7 linked regions of the Homo sapiens genome follow. The protein of the gene in region 4 purifies or fractionates together with the protein of the main gene of each other region. This does not show direct contact. Each region holds a gene or a part of one and is shown on either strand. Other genes may lie near its edges.

Region 1 (3,500 bases), on a different chromosome or scaffold from region 4:
ACAGTATCTCTGAAATGTTCCTACTATACATCTTTCCATCTAATCTAAATGTTTTAATATTTACATAAATGTCCATCCAGAGAATACGAACTGACCTACACTGTCCTAGATGCCCTGCCATTCATAAACCAAAGGTACCATTTTTATTTTGGCTATGCACTCCTAAACACTTACCTAAGTGTGGCATTCTGTATAAGTCAATTTCAACTTGGCATCTGTTATCTCTGTAAGGGAGTGCTGAGCATGACAATATATAGTCTAAAACTGACTTGGTGAATATACAACATGGAACTAGAAGAAATCCTAAACTGAAAATCACCTGCTTAGATTACTATGCTTTACAAATAACAGGGCCATAAATCGTGAAGGACTAAGCACAGTGGGAAAAAAAAAAGCACTGAAACACAACTGCAAAATAGAGAAGTGCTGAAAACGAAAAGTATGGCTAGCGATTTTCAGGTAAAGAATATGATTAAATATTAAAACTACAGATATAAAATTCATTTCATCTTAAAAATATGGAATATCTAATTTTGTTTTATTCAACAAACATGTATTGGGACAACAAATATTTATTATATGCCTTATAACCAATTAGTAAACAATATGTACTATGTGCAATTGTTGGTTGACTTCCAAACCACTGCATAGATGTAAACATTTTCTCAAATTATGCAGTAATTACAGAGTAAAAAACTTATACACATATTAAAATAGAAATCTAATTTAAAATGTTTATTAATCTCTAATATAAAGCATCACTTCATCCAAACAGAAAATCCTAGGAAAAAAGTAGGTATATTTAAATATTACCATAGTAGTCTTAATTGGGGGAAAAAAAAAAAAAAAGCAAACAAACCTCTACAAATCAGTCCTTCCCCTATTACACAGGCTAATAATTATTTTTCACATGTTGATTTTTAAGACCCTATGAGGTATAGAGGTGCCTTTGGAATCATCAAATATTAAATTACATTTTGTTAAATTTTGAAATCATCTGTATTGTTTTCTGAGTTTATTTTCAGCTAATACTAAAATGTATAATCAATGTCCTTATAGATTATCTAAGGAACTAGAACACACTTAAAATACTAAGAGTACTTTAAACAAGACATTAGAAACCTGGAGGTTTAATTACCAGGTGCTTTTTAAACACAATGCATATGCCACCAGACCCTCCTGACTGGCGGAAGCATGGATTGTCCTGAGAAACCCAACATCTCTGCAACGCTCTTGAGGCAACTTCCACTCTCTCTTCAAGGACTTTTGTTCAGTTGGCTCCCTCTGCTCCCTTCAAAACTTTCAATGGCTGCTATTCTACTGGCCTCTAACCAAAAAAGTTAAAAGTATGATCAAATTTTCATCTTAAAAATATATTTTCAATCACTCTCTGTGAATTCTGAGAGCGAGTACTTGTGAAAGCAAAAATGACTACGGACCTTCTAATCACAAATCCAAGTCCTGGTTTCCATAAAACAGGTAGCATTTGTTAAACACAAAGGAGTAACCTCCCAGGCATTGTGCTTGATAGATTTTATCTCATCTGATCCTCACAGTAGCCCTATAAAGTAGGTGCTTCTCCCCTCATTTGCTAAATGAGGAAATGAAACTAAATTGTGAGCTCAAGGTCACAGAGCTATTCGGGGCTCGAGAGGGGGTGGGAACCGAGACTGTCTAACACCCCCTCATTTCAGTACCTGACCTTCTCACTTTCTGAAATTTTCTCAGTTTTCAGCTGCTTTTAAAAGTTACACCCTCCTAACTCTCCTCTTGCCTCTCTTGTTCTGTACCTTCTCGTTTTTCTTTATTGCTTCCTATTTCTCTACCCAACTCTTAAATTTTAGGATCTCCCCAGGCCTCTGTTTCCCTATTAACTTTTGGTACTTGCCCTGGAAAACCTATCAACTTTCACGGTTTATAATTACCTATACACTGAAAACTCCTAAATGTTTCTGTGTGTCTATCCATTTATCTACCTACCATTTATCTACCTGCCTATCTAGCCCAGGACCTCTGTGCTCAGAACTCACATACAATGATTCACTGGACACACATCTCCAGTTCGATTTTCTATAAGCACTTCAAGTTCTACATGTCTAAAACTGAACTCTATCACTCTTGCTCTCAAATCTGGATCTCCTTTTAAGTTCCCATCCCATCCTCCTATACCACCCACTCCCAATCCTCCAACCAAATTGGTCACCTAATCTTAGAGGTTCTACCACCTGAATATCGTTGTAACCAAACCCCTTTTTTTCATCCCACTGCCAACACTTTGGTACAAGGACCTCAACCTCTCTTACCAAAGCCACCCCAATATCTTCTAAACTACCATCCAAATCTCACATTCCTCAGATCCATCCTTCTAGATTGCTTGCTGTAAGAGCTGTTTTCTCATCACATAGCTCCTCTGTTTAAAACAACCTTAAACTGAAAATAGTCCATACTCCTGAGAATGGCAAACAGCCCTCCATGATCTTGCTCCTGCCTCCAGTGATTCATCTTTTATGTCACCCTCTAAGAAACCCTCAAATCTCCTGTCCCCACACAGAATTGACCACTTCCAAATTTCTGCTCAGGGTACTGTGTGTGTATCTCTATCACGGCACTTACAGAACAGCCAGCACTATACTGTAGATATTGAAAATAGCCTGTTTCCTCCTTGTCTCCCCCTTTTAAACCTAGAGCCCTCCCAGGGCCTTAATTGTATGCACATCCCCAGAGCACAGTGCTTGGCACACAGTATGCTTTTAACAAATATTTGTTGAATAAAAGAATGAATGTTTGTGAAATGCTTCAGATTAAGGAGATATGATTACCACTGTTTTCAAGATCAAATTAAACCATTTTAATCATATGTATTTGATTATGTACCTCCTCCATAAGTAGATTTGCAAAATAATATTTAAATAATTCATGTAGCCTCAAGTATGGTTAGCAGGATTCTCAAATCATACTTCTTATTCTGGACTTCCGGGGTAGAAAAATATTAACTACACTACATTATAGTTAGTAAGTTTCAATGGCAGAAAGTAATATGTAAAATATTCTAGTATACATATTCCTAAACAAAGACGATCTGGGCCTATCATAAGAAAGTAAACTTTTTTTTAAAGGCTGCTTCAGTTTCTCAGAAACACCAAGATATTCCAGAAGACTGAATTGTCTGAAATTAATACACCCTCCTAAAGATCTCATACACAAATTTTTTCTATAAAAGGTACATTAAAACCTTTTATATAGAGGTCACCCTTCTGGAAACCTAAACATTTCAGTTCACAGTCCAAACCACAAATAAAGCACGTAAACTGAAAGTGTCTGTCACAAAGTCTACAGGATTTACACTCGGGCAATAGCCCACATCATTTGATGGAAAAAAAGACAACAGATAATAGAGCAGCAGGGCCCACTCACAGTCTGACAGCAGCAGAAAGTGATAGCCAATAACAGAAAGAGGACCCAGAAAAAAAAAAAAAACATAAAAAGAAGAATGGTACTTC
Region 2 (3,500 bases), on a different chromosome or scaffold from region 4:
GTAAAAGATCTCAATACTATAGGAATTATTTACTTACGCTCCACAAAGGAAGTAAAGAGCATTCGAAACCTGCTAAGCCGACTACCTTCATCTGCCCACATTCGAATCACTCCAATTCCTGTTTTAAGCATTACATCATTGGCCACAGTGCTGCAAAACTTGGCCTTCAGGTTTTCAATAGAACTGCTTCCATCATAGACTGCAACGAAGTTTCTCTTGCATTCATTTGAGTGCTCCATTTGATAATCTAGGAACCTCAAATAAATCTGTAATATTAACACAAAAACACTGCTTTTAAAAAGATATATTAATTTGAATTTTTCTATTTCTATTTTCCACAGACAACATGGGACACCGAATGACAGCTGACAGAAAACCATAATCGATAAATGGCTGATGCCTAAATAGTGAGAGGAACTAAGATTAATGATCTGTTTCTTTGGTTGTCTTTATAATGGAACCAAGCATTAAGGAACTTACTTTGTGTTTTGTCTATAAAGAGTAGAAACTTTTTGCTCACAAGGCATAACTATCTCACATTTTTCTCATTATAAAAGCAATCTCATGGTACTGGACAGGGGAGAAAATAAAATAATCACTCATATTTCTATTATTCCAACAATGCATGTGATTAATTGGTGAGTTTCTTTTCACTCTTTCTGCACATTAAAAAAACCTGTGTTTAATTGTAAGATATACACATCCTACTTTAGCTGTAACATATAAAAATGTTTTTATCTATACTCTTAGCCATACCTATTCCCGGATGTCCTATTATTTATTTACACAATATCCTACTGTTCTACATGGTTGCTTTATTTCACCTCTTAACAATACCTGCATTTTCAGACAGGCAGACGTCAACTGTACTATCAAAGGAAGCTCTATTAGCATCCCCCATTCAAATTTTATAGCTAAATGGTTCTAAGTTATTTCCTAAACACTCTTGACCCATTCTTGTTTGGCGATTTCTCTTACATTGTGAATTTAGATTTTAAGCATTAATCTCCAGAAGAGCCTAATGAAGTAGGTATCATGTTTTTTTGTGGGCAGAGATGAATCTGTTATTCGGTGGCAAGGATTAAACCCAGGTTGGTCTGACTCTAAATGTGCGTCCTTCTCATTCCATGAAGCGCTTTACATACTCACACAGTGTTCCCTGTTTGGGCTCTAGTTTCTCATATGTGACTCTATCATTAAAATAAAATTTGAGTGAGTGAATAAAGATTACCTTTGAATTGCCATTCAAGACATCTAATGAGTATTCACTTCCTAGCTATTATTTCTGAGGGAGCAGTATGCCACATCTACCCTTTAATTCGAAGAGATTAATAAAACAAAAATGTCATGTCATATATTCCCCCCCCACCCCACCAAATACCTTGATGGCATAAAACTAAGAGAGAACAACTTACAAAATATAGCTTAAAGAATTACATTTTGACTAAATAATTTTGGTTTATTTGAAATGACTGGTTCACCACTTCCGTGAGAATGGTGGAAAATTGGTAATGAAATAGGATTTCCAGTTCAAAACTTTACAAAGTCTTCATGCGTGTATTTTAACAAAGAAGCAATATGTTTTCTTAAATATATCAACAGTTCTCATTAGTTTTCCATCACTTATATAACCCAAACCCTCCGCTCACACTCTGGTAGCGAGCTCTAATGCTGTAATGACTTCCCTCTTCCACTAGACTGTGATGTCTTCCAATGGAAGGTCACTGGCTCAGTTTCATCCAGTATAATTCTTGCTCATGGCAGACAATGAGAAAGTGACTAGGCTTGTAAAACTATGACTTGGTAGAAGTATCAGTAGAATAATCAAGCTGTCTGAAGTATTTATATTTACTCTCTGCTTTTCTTTTAATCCAAATAAATATGGTATTATATAAGGCTATAGTAAATGCTCTTCAAAGACATATTTTTAAAAAAACATCGAGTTAAAGATAAATAATAACAAGATCACAGCACTTTTCTACTGTAAATACAGCTAAATATTGAATTGTTTAGTTCAACAAATTTTTGGGAAATATTCATAACGTGAATCTGACAAATTGCAATGTTGGGAGAAGGGCATAAACTACTTTTCTTTTACTCCAGATTGCATGAGAAGGGATCTTTTACTTACAACTTTCATCAAGTAAGTGACCTCTTACCCTATCCCTATATCCTACCCAGGGAGGCAGGGCAAGTTACCTGGATGGTGGGAGTTTGGTTTCTTTTTCCCTCCCCTCATAGGAAGTGGGACTGGGTAGGCCGGTCTGCTCTGCAGATGCGAACTTTCCCTGGAGTGGAATGGGCTGTTCTAGACTTAGGTGAGACGTAGAACTGGTGGGCAAGGAGTTGCCAACACTAATTAGATCATCTCTCTGCGTTGCTCTCTCTATCCTAGCCTTCACTGTGGTAAAGAGGCTTTTCCAACTCCCTACACACTGACACTTTTATTTCTCAATTGGTTCAGCACTCCACCAGGGAAAAGGGATGCTATTTATTGGAGCCCCTGAAGACCCCAACAGAAATGAAATCCCCAGAAAGCTACTATCATGAAAAGGCCACTGATAAAAGTGGACTAAAACACTATTTGTATACTCTTAAACATCGATGCCTTCTTTTGTATATTTATTTTTAAAATATATTTTTAATTTTAAAAATAGAGACAGGGTCTTGCCATGTTGTCTAGGCTGGTCTTGAACTGCCAGGCTCAAGTGATCCTTCCGCCTCAGCCTCCCAAAGTGCTGGGACTGCAGGCATGGGCCACCGTGACTGGCTTCTTTTTATATTTATAAATGGATATTTTTCTTAAACATCACCCATGAACTAGTTTCTCACATTTAGTATTCAAGGGTAATGGTGACTTTTAACATTTAATTTAGATTTCTTAAATAAAACCATCTATTTACACTTTTTTGTTTGTTTGTTTTCTTTTTTTAGACAGAATCTCACTCTGTCTCCTAGGTTGGAGTTCAGTCGCGTGATCGCGGCTCTCACTGCAGCCTCCACCCCCAATTCAAGAGATTCTTGTGCCTCAGCCTCCTGAGTAGTTGGGACTACCGGTGTGCACCACCACACCTGGCTAATTTTTTGTATTTTTAGTAGAGATGGGGTTTCACTATGTTGCCCAGGCTGGTCTCGAACTCTTGACCTCAAGTGATCCGCCTGCCTCAGACTCCCAAAGTGCTGGGTTTACAAGCGTGAGCCACTGCGCCTGGCCTATTTACACATTTAAACATTCAAATTTTAAAATTTGATCCAATTCCCATGTCAACTGTAATAATTTTTTTAAGTTTAACTGATTTACTTTTATTAAAAGCAATACAACATTCTTCTATAGTCAATATTCCAGGTAACGCTCCTAAAAATTTGTGAATATGGAATTATCTTTTCAAGGAATATTTCAATGAAGAATGAGATCTAATAAATATTGTTTAATTTCACTTAAAGCACACTTAATATTTTCATACTTACATATCTATAAAAATATGTTGTATTGTTCCATA
Region 3 (3,500 bases), on a different chromosome or scaffold from region 4:
TATACACTCCTCTCAGAATCATTTCTAGAATGTGTATAATCCCGGCGTTAAGTGATGGTGGGAATGATTTGCCTTTAAAAGCCTACAAATTAAAAGGGGAAAGATGCTAAGCTAGATGCTGGTTTTCTGTAAAGATGAATTTGTGAAAAACTGCTTTATGGTCTAGAAATACGTAAGCCTGGCATTAGCTGATGGCACATTCTAACATTTTATAGCATTAAAAAACATCGACTCATTCCATTGGATGAAAGCCATGGTGACATTTTTACAAAAGCTGTACCCAGGAATCCACTCAACGTCCTCTCTTCAATTGTCGTTTTTCATCAACAAAGCCTATATATATATATATAAATGAGTTGCTGTGCTCTCACCATGGAGCAGTGTTGATTTGATGTAATGAAGTATTAAACGTTCTCCTTGCTCTCTTTGCCTTCAACTAAGTTTCTGTTAGTTTTTGGCATGCCAGATTCTCTGCTTCCATCTTGATTTCCTATCTCACTGCATGACCATCTTAGAGCTGTTACTAATTCAAAGTCTGGGGTTTTTTTCTCCCAAAGGTCAGTCTAAGGAGGCAGCCACCTATATGACATGACGTCAGAGGGATTAGGAAGGACCCACACTCACCTTCCCTAAGGCTTACTGACTTGTACATAAGGTTTATAATTTAGGTATACCCACCCTAAGTAACATCTGATTGAAGGCATGAACTTGCTTGAGATCCACTCTCAGAAACAGGTTTAGAGGGGAAAAGAAAAAGAATACTGGGAGCTTCAAGGAGGAAGAAAAGGGCCACAGAACAAGGGGAAGCTGGGCCTATAGCAGTCCAGCATGGTAAGGGGCCAACAGTTGGCTTCTAAAAGGTAATGGGTTAACACAGTCATCCTAATACCACCTCCTGAGATGCTGAATTTTCTCTCAGCTAAGTACACATTTCTATTTTCAGGGACAGCTTACATAAATCAGAATTATATTTTTAGGAATCTTTAATCATGAATTCCTCTCTAAATTTCAAAATATTTTATGACTTCTAAGGAAACTTTTTTTACAATAAATAATAAAGAAAGATTTGGGATTTGCAGAATCTTCTGGCCCAATTAAAAACAAAAGAAGCTGTAAATATCCAGAACTTAATAGATGTATAAATTATAAACAAAACATGTCCCTGCCCCAAGGTATTGAAATTACATTACTATAGATACATCCCATTTATGAGGTAGTCCGATTCCTCAGATGTAATGGGACGAGCTTTTTTCAGTTTCTGTTTCACCAGTCGTAGTCGGCATGCAACCATGAGAAGCAGCAGAGCAGTGATAGCCAAACCCAGCGCCAGGGGTAGCACTGCACCTTTGAGAAGGTTAGACATGAAGAGGGCAAGCCAGTGATTAGTCACAGTGACAGCTACTGGTCACTATATGATACGCGCTTTGCATGCACTATTTTATTTAATCCAAACAAATTGTTATTAGTATTATCACTATTTTGCAGATTAACTAAGGTGTACCAAGGTTAAGTAATTTGCTTATTTGCCTAGGAGGCTGTAAGTTGTAGGTTCAGGTCCCAAACCTAGACTTTTTTTTTTTTTTTTTTTTGAGATGGAGTCTTGCTCTGTTGCCCAGGCTGGAGTGTAATGGCTCAATCTCGGCTCACTGCAACCTCTACCTCCTGGGTTCAAGCGATTCCCCTGCCTCAGCCTCCCGAGTAGCTGGGATTACAGGTGCCTGCCACTGTGCCCAGCTAAATTTTGTATTTTTAGTAGAGATGGGGTTTCAACATCTTGGCCAGGCTGGTCTCAAACTTCTGACCTCGTGATCCACCTGCCTCGGCCTCCCAAAGTGCTGGGATTACAGGCGTGAGCCACCGTGCCCGGCCAACACAGACCTCTTTAAAACCAAATTCTCTACCAGCTTCCTACAAAATTTGTATGGCATCAATGGGTACACATACTACCATCTGATCACTCATATCCAACTGAAATAGGCATTCTGATCACGAAATTTTTTTGTTGTAGTCATTGACTATATTTATGAATTCATACATGATCATTCTTCAACTAAGTATGAACTAACTCCTGATTTCTTGTTCTAGTTAGGGCTTAAGAAATTTATTTCCTTCTAAATCCAGGGAACTGACTCAGTCAGTAGAACCTTTGTTGAAAACTAACTTCCAAATATGCTGGTGTGATTTTGGACATTAAAGGAAAACATTTCTTTAGTTTTTCCTGTGAGGTGGATTCTAGACACCAGAGTAGAAGTAGCGAGGCTTGCAGGAGTCTGGAAGGACAGGGTGTGCCAATATCAGTCTTTTTTATCAAGCTTAGCAGGCTCTATTTTTAGTCTGATCTACTCTGTGGCCAGGCCAGGTCTGGAGATTATATGGTGGAACTGTTTTTAGCTGTAGGGATCTTGCCAACTGGTAGAACTAGAGGAGAAACATCTCCTTTGTGTAGGCTCATTCTATACCATTTGCTCTCATTTATTCATTCATTCTGCATTCATTAAAAGCCTTCTTCCATGTGCCAGACACTGAGCTAAGTGCTGATAATCCTTTTATTTGTAAATAAATACCACCCCCCTCAAGATAAGCTAAGGCCAAGAATACCAGCTTTATAGCTTAAATCACTGAATTCTCACAACCACCACATAAGTTGGTGCTATTATTATCCCCATTTTACAAATGAGGGAGCTAAGGCATCAACAATGAAGTGAGGGCCAGGCACGGTGGCTCAGGCCTGTGATACCAGCACTTTGGAAGGCAGAGGTGGGCAAATTGCTTGATCCCAGGAGTTCGAGACCAGCCTGGGCAACATGGCGAGACCTTGTCTCTACAAAAAATTATTAGCCAGTTGTGGCATGCACCTGCAGTCCCAGCTACTCGGGAGGCTGAAGTAGGAGAATCACCTGAGCCCAGAAAGTTGAGGCTGTTATGAGCCATGATCAGGCTACTGCACTCCAGCCTGGGTGACAGTGTAAGGGCCTATCTCAAAAAAAAAAAAGAGAAGTGAGGCTGGGCACAGTGGCTCATGCCTATAATCCCAATACTTAGGGAGGCTAAAGCAGAAGGATCACTTGAGTCTGGGAGGTAGAGGCTTCAGTGAGCTCTTAAACTGTACTCCAGCTTGGGTGGCAAAGTAAGATCCTGTCTTAAAAAAAAAAAAAAAAAAGACTGAAGTGACTTGTCTAAGATTGTTAAGTGGTAGAGCTAGCAAATAACCCCAGACAGGACAGCCCCAGAGCCTGTGGTTCTATCCACTATGGTACTCTACTTCTACAAAATGTAAATGAGACAGTTTTTGAACGAGTAAGTCTGGGTAGACAGACATTTAAATGGGAAAAAATGCAACAAAGTGTTATACTTACTATGATAGAATTATAGATGAAGCATAGTTGTATTAATAAAATAGGTGGTCCATCTACCTGGTCTGTAGGATTTTTGCCTGAGTGATTTTGATGTATGATAGAGACTGTTGGGTGGCTGAAGGAGGTAAGTTTATTTTTTGACAT
Region 4 (3,500 bases):
GGCATTGCTCAGAGCCTGACACACCAAAGACATCCCACAAATAGTTACTAACAAAAAAGAAAAGAAGGTAGCATCCCTATGACAGTATTTTTTTAAATAAGAATGTATTTATCTTATTTCAATAGCTTTTGGGGGTACATGTGGTTTTTGGTTACATGGATGAGTGATATAGCAGTGAATTCTGAGATTTTAGTGTACCCATCCATGACAGTATGTATTGGAATAGGAAGGTTGGAGAACACCAACTAGTTCTGTAACTACTTCAGCAAAACTATTTGCTGTTGTATACCCAGAAAATTAAAAGAAGGAAATAATAAGAGAATGTTGAACTCTAATAGGATGTCTTCCCCCTCCCTCTCCACTCTAGAGGGCCAGGAAGCAGTTTGGGACAATATCTGTGGGATCTTTTGTTTTGAAGGCCACATACTATTGGCTTTCCCTTCTCTCTCACATTTTTCACCTTCTCTGTTCTCTAGAGCCATAAATAATAAAAATAGCACCTTGTAGAAACTTTACATTTTTCAGTGGTTCCCACATACCATACATTTAAGAGACGAAATAGCTATTTGCCATGTGTCCTTCTCCTGTGCATATTCCTGACAGCTTCTGAGGTCTAGACACTGGGGAAGGCTTCTGGAGTATGGGGCAGGCTACCAGTTTCTTCTAGATAACCCAGAATGACTCATAGGTTGTACCAACTACACATTTTGGCAATTCATATCAGACATAAAGTTTCTAATTAAAATGTTAATCAGTATGTATTTGAAATCATGTAACTCAAATAATGTTAAATTTTTTGAAACAATATAGCAATAAGGCAAAAAGTACAAATAAATCAATATTTAAATATAATAAAAAATAATGCATTAAATGTATTAAATAATACAAATTTTTAAATAAGGCATTAAAAAATACAATAAATCTCATGGCCTACGTGTCACAGAAGTGATTTAAGAGAGGAAAAATAAGCTAGAAAACCAAATACTGCATGTTCTCACTTTAACTGGGAGCTAAACAATGGTGCACATGGACATAAAGATGACGATGGTAGACACTGGGGACTACTAGAAGGGGAAGGGAAGGGAGTAGACAAGGGCTGAAAAACTATAGGGTACTATACTCACTACCTGGGTGATGGCATCAGTTGTTCCCCAAACCTCAGCATCAGACAATATACCCATGTAAAACCTGCACATGTACCCCTTGAATCTAAAATAAAATTGAAATTATAAAACAGAGAGAGAAAAAAAAAGTTTATGTAGCCTAATGTGGTAGTAATCTTAATTGTGATGATGAGGATGACACTGATGATAATTGTGGGTGGTCAAAGGAAATAAATAATAAAAAAGTATAATTTACCGCTGTTCTAAGTGATTTACCTCCATGCATTCATTTAATTCTTCAAACAACCCTGTAAATTAGGTAGCATTATTCCAGTTTAAAAGATGAGAAAACTGAATCAGACAAAACAATTTTCCCACGGCGCAACTTAGCCAGAAGTGCTGGAAGCAGGGAAGCTTTTGCTTTAAACTACTTTGTACTTTTCTCAGAAAGAAGTAAAGGGATCTGTGTTCTTGTCTCAGCAGTGAAACTGCCATGACCCTTGGCAGGTCAGTTAATCTCTATAGGTGTCAGTCTTCTTTATGGATAAAATAAGGATGAGCCTAAAACACCTCCAAGATTCTACAAATGTTATATGACTCCAGAAACAGATGTAGATACAAAGCAATAGGATGTAACTGCTGTTTGTACACCAAGTTTTAGTATCATGCATTGGTTTGGATGTCAATTTTACACAACTTACTACTATGCCTATTTGACTATACAAAAATAGGGATAACGATGTTTACCATCTACCTTTTTCAAAGATAATCTCTTTGGATTAAATAAAATCTGTTCAAAGTAACATATTCTGATGTGTTTGAAAAGTTTAATATGGGGTTCCTGTTTCAGAGTCAACTTAGGTTTGCGTAAGTAATTGGTGCTAAATAGGGCAATCTTCATCAACTAGTTTTCTTGTATAATATCATGTTTTCATATGCAGCCTACCTGCTATTAACATGGAAGAGTTACATGAGGGTTGTGCATAACTTCTACTTAACTAATTTTTTTCTTGGCTTTCCTTTTTGATAAAAGAAAATGAAGGTTTTGCCTTTATCCTTCCTGGACCATCAAGACTTCCAAATTTCTTCAGTAGGAAACTGCCAGACTTTTTCCCTGGCAGAACAATCAGTTCCCTGCTTGTTAGTGGACTTCTGTTTTCTGGGTGGCAGACCCTAGCGGCTGACAAAATTAACGCCATGCCCAACCCCCTTTCTTTCTCCCTTGTCGTTTCTATTGTAGTGGTGGGCAAAGCAAATATTTGCTTTCCCAGACTCCGCTGTATTGAGGTGTAGTCATATGACCCAGGTTTTGGGGAAAGACACTGTGTTCTAGATACAAAGGAGAGTCACGAGAAGAGAGCTAGCTGGCATCACTCAATCTCCTTTCTTCATGATTTGAACACACACGCAGTGTTTGAGACTGCGGCAGCCATTCTGCATCCTTGAGAAAGATACAGCTATAAAGTCAATAGGGGGAGATCAAAGAATGAAAATATATGAAGAACCCAGTTCCTTGATATAATCACTGGCTCAATGAACAAGCTCTATATTGGGTCACCCACAGAGCTGTTTTTCATGTGAGGAAAATAAATCCCTCTTTGAATGAACTACTATTAATCTGATATATGTTACTTGTGGCTGGAAGCAATCCTCGCTGGCATCAGATTTAAGAACTTTGTGTATTTAAGAAATACATATATTTCTCTTAATATAGAGAAAGCTATACAAACCTTTTTGGATTAGATTAATAAATCTAAAAGTATTCATGTAAAAAATACAACATAAATGGTATAAACACATATAAGTGATGATATGAGAGGAGGAACACTCTTTACTTTTGCTAGAGCCTATTTGTTCCCTAACACTTTATGTCTATAACATGCTTATGACTGTGCCAGGTCAGAGATGCATGGCTGTTGCCACTCTGCTGTCATGCAGGAATTGCTAATCAATAACAGCACTCTCCCTCTAACCCAGAGCCAGCCTCAGACACATTGTTTCGCAACCACAGGGAGTCTGTTAAAATTGACACTCAAAAGGAAAGCTATTTGCCTTCTCTGTTTTAGGTTCCTTTTGTTTTCCTTTCTTTTCTTTTTCATTACAGTTATTTATTTTATTATTTCCTCATCACGAGCCTATGGTAGGTATAATACAGCAAACAGTATCCGCTGGCTTCCTTCATTGGTGTCACAATCATTCCCCAAGTGACCCCTATGGAGTCCAGTGACCAAGGAATCCATGGGTAGAATTCAGGGATCCATGAACTTGGATGGGGGAAAAATACATCTTTATTTAAACCTTTAACTCAAATTGAGTATTTCCTTTGATGATGAGTATAAGCAACAAACCACAATACTATTAGTAGTATTTGTGACTGTCACTAATAGAAATTATAGA
Region 5 (4,202 bases), on a different chromosome or scaffold from region 4:
AGGGGGTAGCTGGCTGAGGGGCTTCGGCCAGCCAGCTCTAAGAGAATCAGACCTAATCCTTTCCTGAGGCGGGATAGAGCTGGCAGGTCCCACAGGGCCCCGCCCCTGCCCTCCCCCAGCTAATTAGTAATTAGTGATTAGTGATTAGTGACTATTGATCGCCTGCTGCTTCTCCCAGTAGGCAGCTGCTTTGGCAAGGGGTCGGGGAGACAGAGAGAGAGGGAAAGGAGTCAGAGACTGTATGAGAAAGATCCTCAAGAATCCCTGGCTGAGAGGCCAGAACCCCAGAGGCAGTGGAAGCCAGGAGTCCCAGGCTCTGAGAAATGGGAAGCCTGGAGTGAGGAGGAAGGGAGAGAAACCTGGAGGAGGGTGAGCAAGCAGGACGGGAGAGGCAGAGGTGTCAGCCGTTCATGGTTAGGGTTGCCAAAAAGTTGCCCTGTAAACTGTCCCCTAGCCACCTCTTACCCAGGATCAGCCTCACCTTTTGCCCACTCCCAGTGCTGGCACCAAGACACCCTTGAGCACCCACACACATAAGCCACACTCAGATACATAAACACATCCTGAGGCTCACAATCTCATAGCACACTCAAATGCACTCACAATCACAAGCACACAGAAACACACTCACAAACCCCAGAGACTCATACAGACAACACATGGGCCCCAGCACACAGATGCACCAGAAACCCCGGGGTATACATGTGCATACGCCACACTCACAAGTGCACAGAAGCACACACAGGTATTTGGACACACAAACACTCATATACCCACACCTCCCCGTGCAGTTATACATATTCACACACCCGCAGTGTGTACACATGTAAACACATTCTCACATGCACATAAGCTGGGCTAACCAGCAGATCCACTCTCCCTGTTGACTCCAACACGGAGGCCCCACAGCTGCAGCTCACACACACACACTCAGATAGATCCCATTGCTCATATCCTCACGCTCACTCTCACTCAAGTCTCCACCAGATGTTTCATTCCCCCTCAGGGGGCAAAGGAAATTAAACCAGATCTGTCCACAGGGGAGTTTATTTGCCTGGGAGAGTGGAGATGAGGTGGGAGGAAGTGGAAAGGAGGGGCAAGAGAATGCCATACCTACCACCTCTTGACCCCAGGCCTTCACACATGGGTGGGTGGGTGGTAGGGCACAGACCCCCCCCACTCCTCCAGTTCACTAAGGACAGAGTTGGGCAGCAAGTCCCTAAGAAGCTCCTGCTAGTGGAAGCAGTTTTCATGGAGGGGCTCCTCTGCCTACCGTGCAGCCCCTCAAGGTCACCAGGTGGGGCTGGGAGGGCCAGGGAGCTCTAATGCTAGCTTCACTGGGGCAGCCCCTGCCCTGCTGGGGTTTGCCAAATGTGATTTGGCTGAGCAGGCAGAGGTCCAAGTGTTGGGGGAAGAAATACACCCCTTCTAGACTCTACAGGGGCTGAGGGTACAGAGAATGAGGGTTTGGGGAATGACCTGCCTGCCCCCAAACTAGGTAGGTCACAGTTGGGGGTCAGAAAACAGGGAAGCCATAGGCAGGGGAGGCTGGTAGAAGGAAAATGGGGGACTGGGGCCTGGGCCCCCATTGCGGGCACACACCAGGGGCATAGGCAGATGGCTGCACTGTGAGGCAGGCACTGACACTCACTCATGCAAAGCCAACACCACACACCACACCAGTATACACATGTACCCTCGGCCCCAGTACTGGACCAAGCCTGGCTTCCCTGGACACATGCACACAGGTGCACACGGTGACCCACGCCCTCCACCCAGCACATATGAGCACAGCATGTTCGCAGGTTGAAGCCTCCAAGTCAGGAAGGAGGCAGATCAAGTCTGAGCTCCCTTAGCCTCTGGCTCTTCGCCCGAGAGCCTCAGGGAAAGAGGCCTTGGAGTGGGGTTGGAGGCAGGGAGGGCATGGGAGGAGAGACTCCCCTTCCAGACAGCCTCCCCCTTCAGTGGGGCACGAGAGGGGGGTGTGTCTGTGAGGTCGTGCAGGGGAGATGGTGTCTCCGTGGGAAATGTGATGGGAGGCTGGCTGTAGCCAAGTTCAGCCGTGTCTGCCTGAGTCCGTGTGTGCGTGTGTGCTCGGGCCATGGATGCTCCCGACACAGAGCCCACCTGGCATGGTGACAAGTGCAGAGAAGAGAAATGGGAAGGCGGGGGTGGAGGGGTGGAAGGACAGACAGACAGTGAGGCAGGCGAGCGAGACTGGCGCGGAAAGACGGCAAGGCTGACACCCTGCTGGCTTGTCTGTCTGTCTCGCACTCCCGCTCTGTCTGGCGCACTCGCGGGTCGGGCTTCGTCCCCTCCCCCGCCGCGCCTGAAGTCGGCTGCAAGGGGGACCTCCGCCCGGCACCCTCTCCAAGCCTCAGCCAACTTGCGCTAGGAGAGTGCCCGTCCTGAATCGGGCAGTCTGTCTGTCCGCTTCCCCCGCGCCGCGCAAAGTTGGGACGCTCGGAGCTGGGGGCGGGGCGGGCGCACGGAGCCCCTCGCACACTGGGACCTTCGCGTCCCGGAACCCCGCGCCCGCGCTAGCGCCCCAGCCCTGCCACTCTTACCTTCCTAAGGAGCCACGGGCCAAAGAGCAAGAGGAACCATTCCGGGAGCAGCCGCATCTTCTCTGGCGGCTGAGCGGGGCAGGCTGGGCGGGTCTCGGGCAGGCGGGAGCCAGGCCTAGGGACGCGGGGCTCCGGGCGGGCGGCGGGGCGGCTGCGGGAGCGGCGGGAGCGGCGGGAGCGGCGGGAGCGGCGGCGCGGCCCGCGGACTGGGCGCGAGGCGCGGAGCCGGCGCTGGGGGCGGGGCGCGGGCGGGGGAGAAAGTTGGGTCTGACTCCGCGGGCGGGGGGCGGGGCTCCGCGGCGCTCCAATCCCGGCCGCGCCCCGCGCGCCCCCTCCCGCCCAGCTGGGGGCACCGAAGGTGACTTTCACACCGGCACGCCCCGGACACGCCCCTGGCCCAGGTGCGAAGCGGAGGGGGTCGAGGGGCTCAGGCACTGGTCCCCCGAGAGGCCGCGTCTGTGCGCCCAGGAGGAACGGGGCAGGGCGTGGGGCTCTGGGCTCCGGGCCCGTGCACCTGGAGTGGGGGCGCCGCGGAGCCCAGCCGGACGACGCTCTCCAAGCCCCGGGCCTCTGCCCTGTTCAGGGCCAAGGTGTGTCGGGGCAGGCGCAGGGCAGGGGCCGAGGTGGGGACGGGCGGGGCCTCGGGCGGCTGCCGCCGCGCGATGCTGACGGGGATGGATGGGCGCCCCGCGGCTCATTCGGCCCGGAGATGAGAATCATTGATCACGGACGGAAACCCCATCACGTCTGTCAATAGGGCTGACAAACGGCGCCCTCCGCCCCGTCCCCGCCTCACCGCACCTCTGCGGTCTCAGGACCCCTCGGCTAGACCGGCTGTTCACCTTTGCCCCTGGCCCCCACCACTGACCCCCACGAGGCCCAGTGCGCCTCTGCATGGGGGCTGGGCAGGAAATCCCTCTCAGCGCCGCCTGCCTGGCCTCTTGGTGCAGTCTCTGTTCCTCCCCTCCCGCCGTCCCATCTTTCACCACCAGCTCTTCTAGATCCTTGTCCCCATTCCCTATCTCTGTCCTTGTCTCTGTCCCCAGCCCCAGCTCTCTGCCCCCATCCTCTTCTCTGTTTCTTCCTCGGTTCCCTCCTCCCCACTGCCTCTCTCTCTCCTGCCCGGGTGGTTTCAGCTGTCAGCTGTTGCTATGCACTGAGGCTGTGGCTGAGGTTGTGGTATGACCAACACCTAGACAGAGATAGGGACAAGCAAAGAGACTGAGAGACAGACACATCCCTTGAGAGCCCACCCCAGGGATGCACGCAGATGCCTTCACGGGGACAGGGCACACAGAGCGAAATACAGAGACAGGCGCACACCTAGCGGCACCCCAACACACAGAGGAGCACAGCAACAGAGGTGAGCACACCTGCACCCAGACGAGCACACCCAGACAGTTGCTCAGTGCGCTCACCCTCTCTTTGTCTTGGCAGAGAGCAAACACCCACAGAGGTGGACACACACACTGAGACATACACAGGTGTATGCTGTCACTGGCAGCCCAGAAGACAAGTGGGGGCACATACAAAGAAATGGACAGATAGATATGGGACGTGACAGCCACACACACGAGTCAGGAAAAGGACCGGTGCTGAGAGGACGAGGCAGATTCAGAGACACCCAGGGAGACA
Region 6 (3,500 bases), on a different chromosome or scaffold from region 4:
AAGGAGGCGGGGCATGAGGACTAAGTGGGAAAGGAGGTGGGGCCTCTGAGGGAGGGACTCATCCAGCAGCAGGTGTTAGTGCCCCAGTCAGGAAGACGGTGAAAGGAACAGGTCTCGTCCCTGGGGCCCCACTGTGCCCTCTGCTGTTACTCCTCTGAGGACCCCTCTGTCTGGGCCCACTGGATAGGGTCCCCGGCATGGAGCAGTAGAGACCCTTATCTACCACATGGAGCTCGGCCGGTGCCTCTGGATCTGCACCCCAAGGCCGCATGGACAGCTTGCATTGATGACCAGGGTTGGGGAGGCCCAGGGGAACTGGGGGCCAGCTAAGAGTCCCCCAGACCTGGTCAGGGCCTGCCTCTCGCCTCTGGATCTTTCCTGCAACCCCAGCCGGATGTGTCTCTAGAGCCCCGGGGCCCCCGCATTCTCCTCCGCAGCGGCGCCCGGCCAGCGGGTACTCACTGCCTTGCTGAGGTCGTGCGGAAGATGGGCCCACTGCGGGTTGTAGAGGATGCAGTAGTCTTTGCCTTCGGGGCCCCCGGCCTGGGAGACCACGTGCACCATGCCGTACTCACAGGCCACCTGCAGGACAAGGCCAGCAGTCAGAGCCACAGCACGGGACGTGCGGGGCTGCACCGCCCCACGAGAAACAGGCCCGAGGAGGGGAGGACGCCTCCAGGAAGGGCGCCCATGTTCACCAGGTGGTCTGGGATGCTTCCCCCTCTCGACAGGACAGACAGGGACGTGACCATACGTGGTTTACAGCAAAGACCCAGACTGGCTCACCTTCCTCAGGGAGCCCCAGGCTGGTGACCATGAGTGTGTCAGGTCACCCCTTTGTGGCTCCCGAGTTTCTGCACCAAAAAACAGGGATCGCACCACCTCCTGGGCCTCCCAGGATCAGTGGGCACGGTGGGAGAATGACAGCCACGGGCAGAGCCACGGGCAGAGCCCTGAGCAGGGAAGCAGGGCAGGGCCCCAGCGGACCTGGCCCCCAGCCTGGGCGGGAGGCCTGGACAAGCAAGCCTCTGCACCCCTCAGGTCTGGGTGGCCTTTGACCCACAGCCCCGTGGGCACTGCTTGTTGGCTGGTGCTCCAAGGCACACGGGGGCCCAGGCACACGGTGGGGCCCAGACGAGGGGGATCCCCAGATCAGCACCCCTCAGCTCCCACTGGTAGAACAGCAGGAAGCAGGTGGGCCAAGGGGCCTACGGGCACCGGGTCCTGAGTGGGACAGGCTGAGGTTTGCAACAGGTCACGCTGCCACCAGCAGGACAGACAGCGTCATGTTCCCCATGAAGCCCCAAAGCAGCAGAGTCCAGCACAGCAGCTCCCACTTCGCAGGAGGGAGAAGGAACAGCCAGCCAGGGCTTCAAGTTCCTGCTCTCCAGCCTGCAGCAGCAGCAGCTCAGAGAAGGCCACAGGGAGAAGGCCCGGATCCACGGGCAGGAGCCCCTGACACACAACGGGGACAACAGGCCAAAGCCAGCCAAGAGAAGCAGGGGTGGTGGCCACCGCGCCCAGGACAGAACGGGCTGGGGCCCTTGCCACGCTCTCAAAATGAAGTAGGGGGCAGGACCAGGCCCCAAAGCCCTGGACGCCTCCCAGGAGGGCTGCGGAGTAGACGGGCCTGGACCAGAAGGGACGACCCCCACCTCTTCAATTTAATGCTTAACAGAGCAGGATGGAGCTATGAGGAAAGACGGATTCCACAAGCAGGAAGCTGGCACTGCTCACCACGCCTCCCACCGCAGGGACCACGGCGGACACTGCAGGGCTCTGGCCTAGGCAGAACCACGGTCCTCCCAGCAGAGCCCAGTCCAGCCGCCCGCACCTGCCATCCCCACCTTCCTCCTGCTCCCGCAAAGCCCAGTCCAGCCTCCCGCACCTGCCGTCCCCACCTCCTCCTGCTCCCCTCCCAGCAGAGCCCAGTCCAGCTGCCCGCACCTGCCATCCCCACCCTCCTCCTGCTCCCCTCCCAGCAGAGTCTAGTCCAGCCGCCCGCACCTGCCATCCCCACCCTCCTCCTGCTCCCCCTCCCAGCAGAGCCCAGTCCAGCCGCCTGCACCTGCCATCCCCACCCTCCTCCTGCTCCCCTCCCAGCAGAGTCTAGTCCAGCCGCCCACACCTGCCATCCCCACCCTCCTCCTGCTCCCCCTCCCAGCAGAGCCCAGTCCAGCCGCCCGCACCTGCCATCCCCACCCTCCTCCTGCTCCCCCTCCCAGCAGAGCCCAGTCCAGCCGCCCGCACCTGCCATCCCCACCTTCCTTCTGCTCCCCTGCCCAGGGCCCCCACCCAGCAGCTGACAAAGACATCTCCATCTCGCCAGGATGCCAGTCACCAGAGGGTCTCACAGCGATGGGGCCCAGGTCCCAGCTGCTGTGCCACACTGCAGACCCTCAGTGTGGGCCCCCAGGGGAGCCCGGCCTGCACAGGGAGGAGGGGTCCCAGAAGAAAAACCACGTGCCAGGGACCAAGGAGACCCACCCCATGCCCTAGGCCTGCCCGTTCTCAGGAGCACCCAGCCCTCAGCCTTCTGGGGCTGCAGGGCTCCTGCCAGGCTGTAAACCTCCCAGACAGAGAGACAGCCGCACCCCCTGGTCCCCAGGGGACCTGTCACGGAAACAAACAGGCCACAGCCATTTGCCTCATCAGGAACAGGATGGCAGCCACATGTCTGAACGGATGCTGAGCTGCGCACCAAACGGGCCGACACCACAACGCCACAAGGGAAAACAGTGCAGACGCAGCTCTGCCAAGCTAGGACTGGGGAAGGACAGCTCTGGCTTGGCTAAAGGTCCCAAAGGTCCCTGGTGCCAGACACCAACCCCAGCACACAGGCACAGACGGGCTCTCCAACAGCCGGGCCCTCATCACTGAAATCATGCAAAGTCTCCGGCCTGGTCTGGGAGCATCTGGGTCAAGGCCCTGGTGACCTCGGGGTGGCAGCATGGTGAAAGCCCACGGAGCCCCGGTCCCCACAATCGACTGGGGGTCTCATAGCTCTTGGCTAATGCTGCTTCCTTCCCACAGCTGCCCCAGCCCCACTCCAAGCACCTCCCATGTGACCTCCCCCAGAGCCCAGGCAGAGTCAGGAGCCCTTTCTTTCCAGTTCTGCCCACCAGACTGCCTGCCCGTGAGAGCACCCCTTAGTCTGGCCCCGGTGCCGAGCCCGGAGGGTGCCCCTTCCAACACAGCCCCCCAGAACCCCTCCTCCAGGAGGGATGTTATGGGTCACGGCAGAGGCCAAGAATCCACAGTCCGGCCCACCTTCTGTGTTTGTAAATAAAGTTTTATTGGAACACAGCCAAGCCCATTCCTAAGGAAGGGTCTCCGGCTCTGGAAGAACAACAGGAGAAACCAAGCAACCAAACCAGAGGCCACGTGGGCCACAGAGCCCAGCAAAACTACTGTCTAGCCCTTCCCAGAAAACACTTGCCAAGCTCTGTTCTATGGGATCAGGGACTCTGGTGAAAAGTGTCTTTTGTGTAAAATGGGAA
Region 7 (3,500 bases), on a different chromosome or scaffold from region 4:
GGGGAGCCCAGGCTGTGGGGCAGGCACAGAAGTGCCAGGGAAGGCAGGAGATAAAGCTGCCAGGAGACCTGGGTTTCAACAGTAGAGCCCTATGGGCTCAGGTGACTACTTGCAAAGCCTTCTGCAGGGTGACGCTTTATGGCAGCCAGGTCCCTGCCAGATACCCAGGGACCCTGAGATCCCACATCAGCAAGCAGAAGGAGGTGACAGAATTAGGCTGAGTTTTCCTTTGGTCTCATTACCACCATGTCACCCTCAACTCCTCCCTTTCCTAATAATAATGATATTATCATAGCTAAGATCTACTGGCCAATCACTAGGTGCCAGATTCTTCACTTTGCAATGATAATCTTTATTTTATAGATGGTAAAAATCAAAGCTCAGAAAGGTTAGAAAGCCAAGTTTACAGAGGAAGCAATGATAAGACTAACCCAGGTAGGCTGGCTACAGGGTCTGCGATCTCCTTCTTTTTATCTGGAAATAATTTTAAATTTACAAAAAAAGTTGCATGTATAGGACAAAGAACTCTCCTACACTCTTACCCAGATTCACCAACTGCTAATTTGACATCTTTGTTTAATCATTCTCTCTATATGCAGTCAGCCCTCTATATCTGCAGGTTCTGCATATGTGACTTCAACCAACTGTGGATCAAAAATATTCAAAAAAAACTTAAAAATACAAAAAAAGTATCAATTTAAAAACAATATAGTATAACAACTATTTACATAGCATTTACATTGTATTAGGTATTATAAAGAATTTAGAGATGACTTAAAGTATACAGGAGGATTGTGTAGGTTATATGCAAATAATGACACCATTTTATAACAGGCACTTGAGCATCCTTGGATTCTGGTATCTGTGGGGGATCCCGGAACAAGTCTCCCTGAGGAGGGCAACTGTATACAAATTCTCTCTCTTTTCTGAATCATTTGTAAATAAGTTGAAGAAATCAGGCCCCTTTAGCACTCAATACTTTAGCATGTATTTTCTAAGAATGAAAACATTCTCTCACACCACAAAAATTAACGAAATGAATATTGATACTATAATGACAATGATATTATTATTAACATATGGTTTCTATTTTCTGGTCCAGAATCCAGTCCAGGATGAAGCATGGTATCCAGTTATCACCGCTCTCTAGTCCCTTCCGATCTGGGGTAGCTTCTCAGTCTATCTTCAACTTATGATCTTGACAATTTTTAAGAGTCAGGGCCAGCTATTTTCTAGTATATTCCTCAATGTCTGATGTTTTCTCATGATTAGGTTCAGGTTATGCATTTTCGTGAGGAATTAGAGTCTGTACAATTAGTCATTAATACAACCCCACCCTATGTGAGTCTTTCTGGGACACTCACCTTGGGGCAGCCAGGATGAGGAAGGACTGAGAACCCCTATACTGTGTAGGATGCTAGAAGGAGTAGGGCCACTTTACTGGAGAAAAGAAGCCCCTGCACCCATGGTGTCTTCAAATACCTGAGTTGCTGCACAAGAGTGAGGCTGCTCCTGAGGAGTGGATGCAACCCCTTCTACCTGACTGGACACACATGCATGATGGTGACACGTGCAACCCAAGCCCTAGGCACAAGTGTGGACTATGGGCACATATGATTCCCATTCTGTCCTGCCCAGCACAGCTGTGCCAGCTGCTCAGGGACCTAGAGTAAGAACTGCAAAAAGAAGTCATGGGGAGGTGGAGCTCAGCATGGTCAGTTGGAGGAAGACTTTCCTAAAGACTAGAGCTGTTTGAGCATGGAGGAATCAGCTACTTTGTAGGGCAGTGAGCCCCTGCCTGGAAGTGGTCTAGCAAAAAACAAAAACAACCCATGTGGACTACTCCACAGCGGGGATAGGGCTGGCCATGGTGTCTTCCAAAGCAGGACTCAGTGGATCCGTGGACCTGTTGTAGCAGTATCACCTGGGATCTGAGAAATGCAGAATCCTGGGCCCCACTTCAGACCTGCAGAACCAGAATCTCTCTGAGATGAGGACCCAGGAACTTGTGTCTTAATAAAGCTTCCAGGTGATTCTTGCGTGTGCACAATACTGAGGGGAACTGCTCTGAGGTTCTTCTAACATTTCACAATTTTGCGATACTCAGCAAGGCATTTCTATCTAGCCCAGGTTAAACAACTAATTCAATTGAGAATAACCCTCCCCATAAGTATCAGTAAAGGCTAAATAAATTCTGTTCCTACCTTTTGCTAAGATGATGCATAAGCCTAAGCTCTGGGACAATCTGAGAAGTCCGCCAGACTCTAAGCTCCCTTTTGAGACAAGTTGCCCCAACCCATTCCTTCCCACACAAAGTGCACCATTTGTGGTGTGGGAGTGGCAAGAAACGAGTCCAGGTCTCTTGGCCACAGCTAAATGGACTAAGGATGGAGTCTGGGTCTAAAGCAGCCACCAGTAGAGGACATAGGGAGATGGCCATCCCTGCAGGCCAGCAGAGAGGAGGTAGGTCCCCCGAGAAAGAAGCCCCTGAACAGAGCAAATTTGGACAGCATCTCCAGTTCCTTACAATGGCTACTGTGTGACTCTCTTGGAAGCTCTGGGACCCAGCACAACTGTGGCAACTCCAGATGCCACTCCAGGATGTGCCATGATTCCTGCCACAAACCTCCACTGTCAAAGGACCCCGGGGTGTGTTTCATCACTGGGTGTGGCAATACAGCAGACCAGGTCCCCAGTCCCTTCCTAAGGCTTAGCTCAGGGCTGAGGAGCAACTACACAGCAAAGAAGGGGCCTTCTCTTAGCCTTTTCAGAATGGAGAAAACAGATAAATTTGTAGCATAAGCTTGTACCAATGGCAGTCACCACTGGCAGAGTGAAAGATCTGATTCTCTTAGAGGTGCTGGAGTATGTACCAGTGCAGACATGGGAAGCCAGAGAAAACAAAAGGACTTGTCCAGGTTAACTAAGAAAAAAAGGATGTTGGCCTCTGGGTAGGGGATAAAGATGAATGGTCTCACCATCTTACTTTACTGAGCACCTACTATGCGAGAGGCGCTGTCTTAAGCCTTTTTCCTGACCTATTTCATTTAAGCCTCACCCTCCAATGCAGTACCAATATTATCCCCATTTTCTTTTAACATGAGAAAACCAAGTTTTAGTGGAGTTAAGTACCTTGCTTAAGGTCTTAAAGCTCAAGAAGGGCCACCAGGATTTGAACCTGCCTCTCACTAAGGTCTTGTTCTTAGTACCGTGCTCATCTGTCATCAGACTTGGAGGAACACTCAATGGCAGATAAGCAGAGTAGACTGTAGAGCAGTGAGTTTTTATTAGTCAAGGGCAGAGCAGGTGTGGTGGCCCTGGAAATGTAGAACCACAGGCCCTGGACTGTAACTTAGCAACCCAAGGCTTCTTGCTGTAATTCCTCCCCACCCAGCCAGGCAGAGGGTACCCAGCTGTGACAGGTGGCTTAGGGAGCTGTGGCCATTCTCTCACCCTAAGGAGAGTCTAAGTAACATACTAGTGTGATAATTTATCCCATG

What was found.
Region 1: the proteins of PON2 (region 4) and UGT8 purify together in Homo sapiens (affinity purification with mass spectrometry; 3 studies listed by BioGRID and IntAct, with this or other methods). This does not show direct contact.
Region 2: the proteins of PON2 (region 4) and NETO2 purify together in Homo sapiens (affinity purification with mass spectrometry; 3 studies listed by BioGRID and IntAct, with this or other methods). This does not show direct contact.
Region 3: the proteins of PON2 (region 4) and LRP11 purify together in Homo sapiens (affinity purification with mass spectrometry; 3 studies listed by BioGRID and IntAct, with this or other methods). This does not show direct contact.
Region 5: the proteins of PON2 (region 4) and NXPH4 purify together in Homo sapiens (affinity purification with mass spectrometry; 2 studies listed by BioGRID and IntAct, with this or other methods). This does not show direct contact.
Region 6: the proteins of PON2 (region 4) and SPPL2B purify together in Homo sapiens (affinity purification with mass spectrometry; 3 studies listed by BioGRID and IntAct, with this or other methods). This does not show direct contact.
Region 7: the proteins of PON2 (region 4) and POMGNT2 purify together in Homo sapiens (affinity purification with mass spectrometry; 3 studies listed by BioGRID and IntAct, with this or other methods). This does not show direct contact.

The regions. Positions count from the first base shown.
Region 1 is NC_000004.12:114,601,807-114,605,306, reverse strand, and holds part of UGT8 (2-hydroxyacylsphingosine 1-beta-galactosyltransferase precursor), read right to left. Parts: intron 1-3,500. UniProt on the Homo sapiens protein: Catalyzes the transfer of galactose to ceramide, a key enzymatic step in the biosynthesis of galactocerebrosides, which are abundant sphingolipids of the myelin membrane of the central nervous system and peripheral nervous system.
Region 2 is NC_000016.10:47,109,446-47,112,945, forward strand, and holds part of NETO2 (neuropilin and tolloid-like protein 2 isoform 1 precursor), read right to left. Parts: intron 267-3,500; coding exon 38-266; intron 1-37. UniProt on the Homo sapiens protein: Accessory subunit of neuronal kainate-sensitive glutamate receptors, GRIK2 and GRIK3.
Region 3 is NC_000006.12:149,819,360-149,822,859, forward strand, and holds part of LRP11 (low-density lipoprotein receptor-related protein 11 isoform 1 precursor), read right to left. Parts: intron 1,345-3,500; coding exon 1,190-1,344; 3' UTR 1-1,189.
Region 4 is NC_000007.14:95,425,029-95,428,528, forward strand, and holds part of PON2 (serum paraoxonase/arylesterase 2), read right to left. Parts: intron 1-3,500. UniProt on the Homo sapiens protein: Capable of hydrolyzing lactones and a number of aromatic carboxylic acid esters. Has antioxidant activity. Is not associated with high density lipoprotein.
Region 5 is NC_000012.12:57,215,392-57,219,593, reverse strand, and holds the start of NXPH4 (neurexophilin-4 precursor), read right to left. Parts: upstream 2,801-4,202; 5' UTR 2,625-2,800; coding exon 2,568-2,624; intron 1-2,567. UniProt on the Homo sapiens protein: May be signaling molecules that resemble neuropeptides and that act by binding to alpha-neurexins and possibly other receptors.
Region 6 is NC_000019.10:2,331,684-2,335,183, reverse strand, and holds part of SPPL2B (signal peptide peptidase-like 2B isoform 2 precursor), read right to left. Parts: intron 583-3,500; coding exon 463-582; intron 1-462. UniProt on the Homo sapiens protein: Intramembrane-cleaving aspartic protease (I-CLiP) that cleaves type II membrane signal peptides in the hydrophobic plane of the membrane. Functions in ITM2B and TNF processing.
Region 7 is NC_000003.12:43,099,580-43,103,079, forward strand, and holds part of POMGNT2 (protein O-linked-mannose beta-1,4-N-acetylglucosaminyltransferase 2), read right to left. Parts: intron 1-3,500. UniProt on the Homo sapiens protein: O-linked mannose beta-1,4-N-acetylglucosaminyltransferase that transfers UDP-N-acetyl-D-glucosamine to the 4-position of the mannose to generate N-acetyl-D-glucosamine-beta-1,4-O-D-mannosylprotein.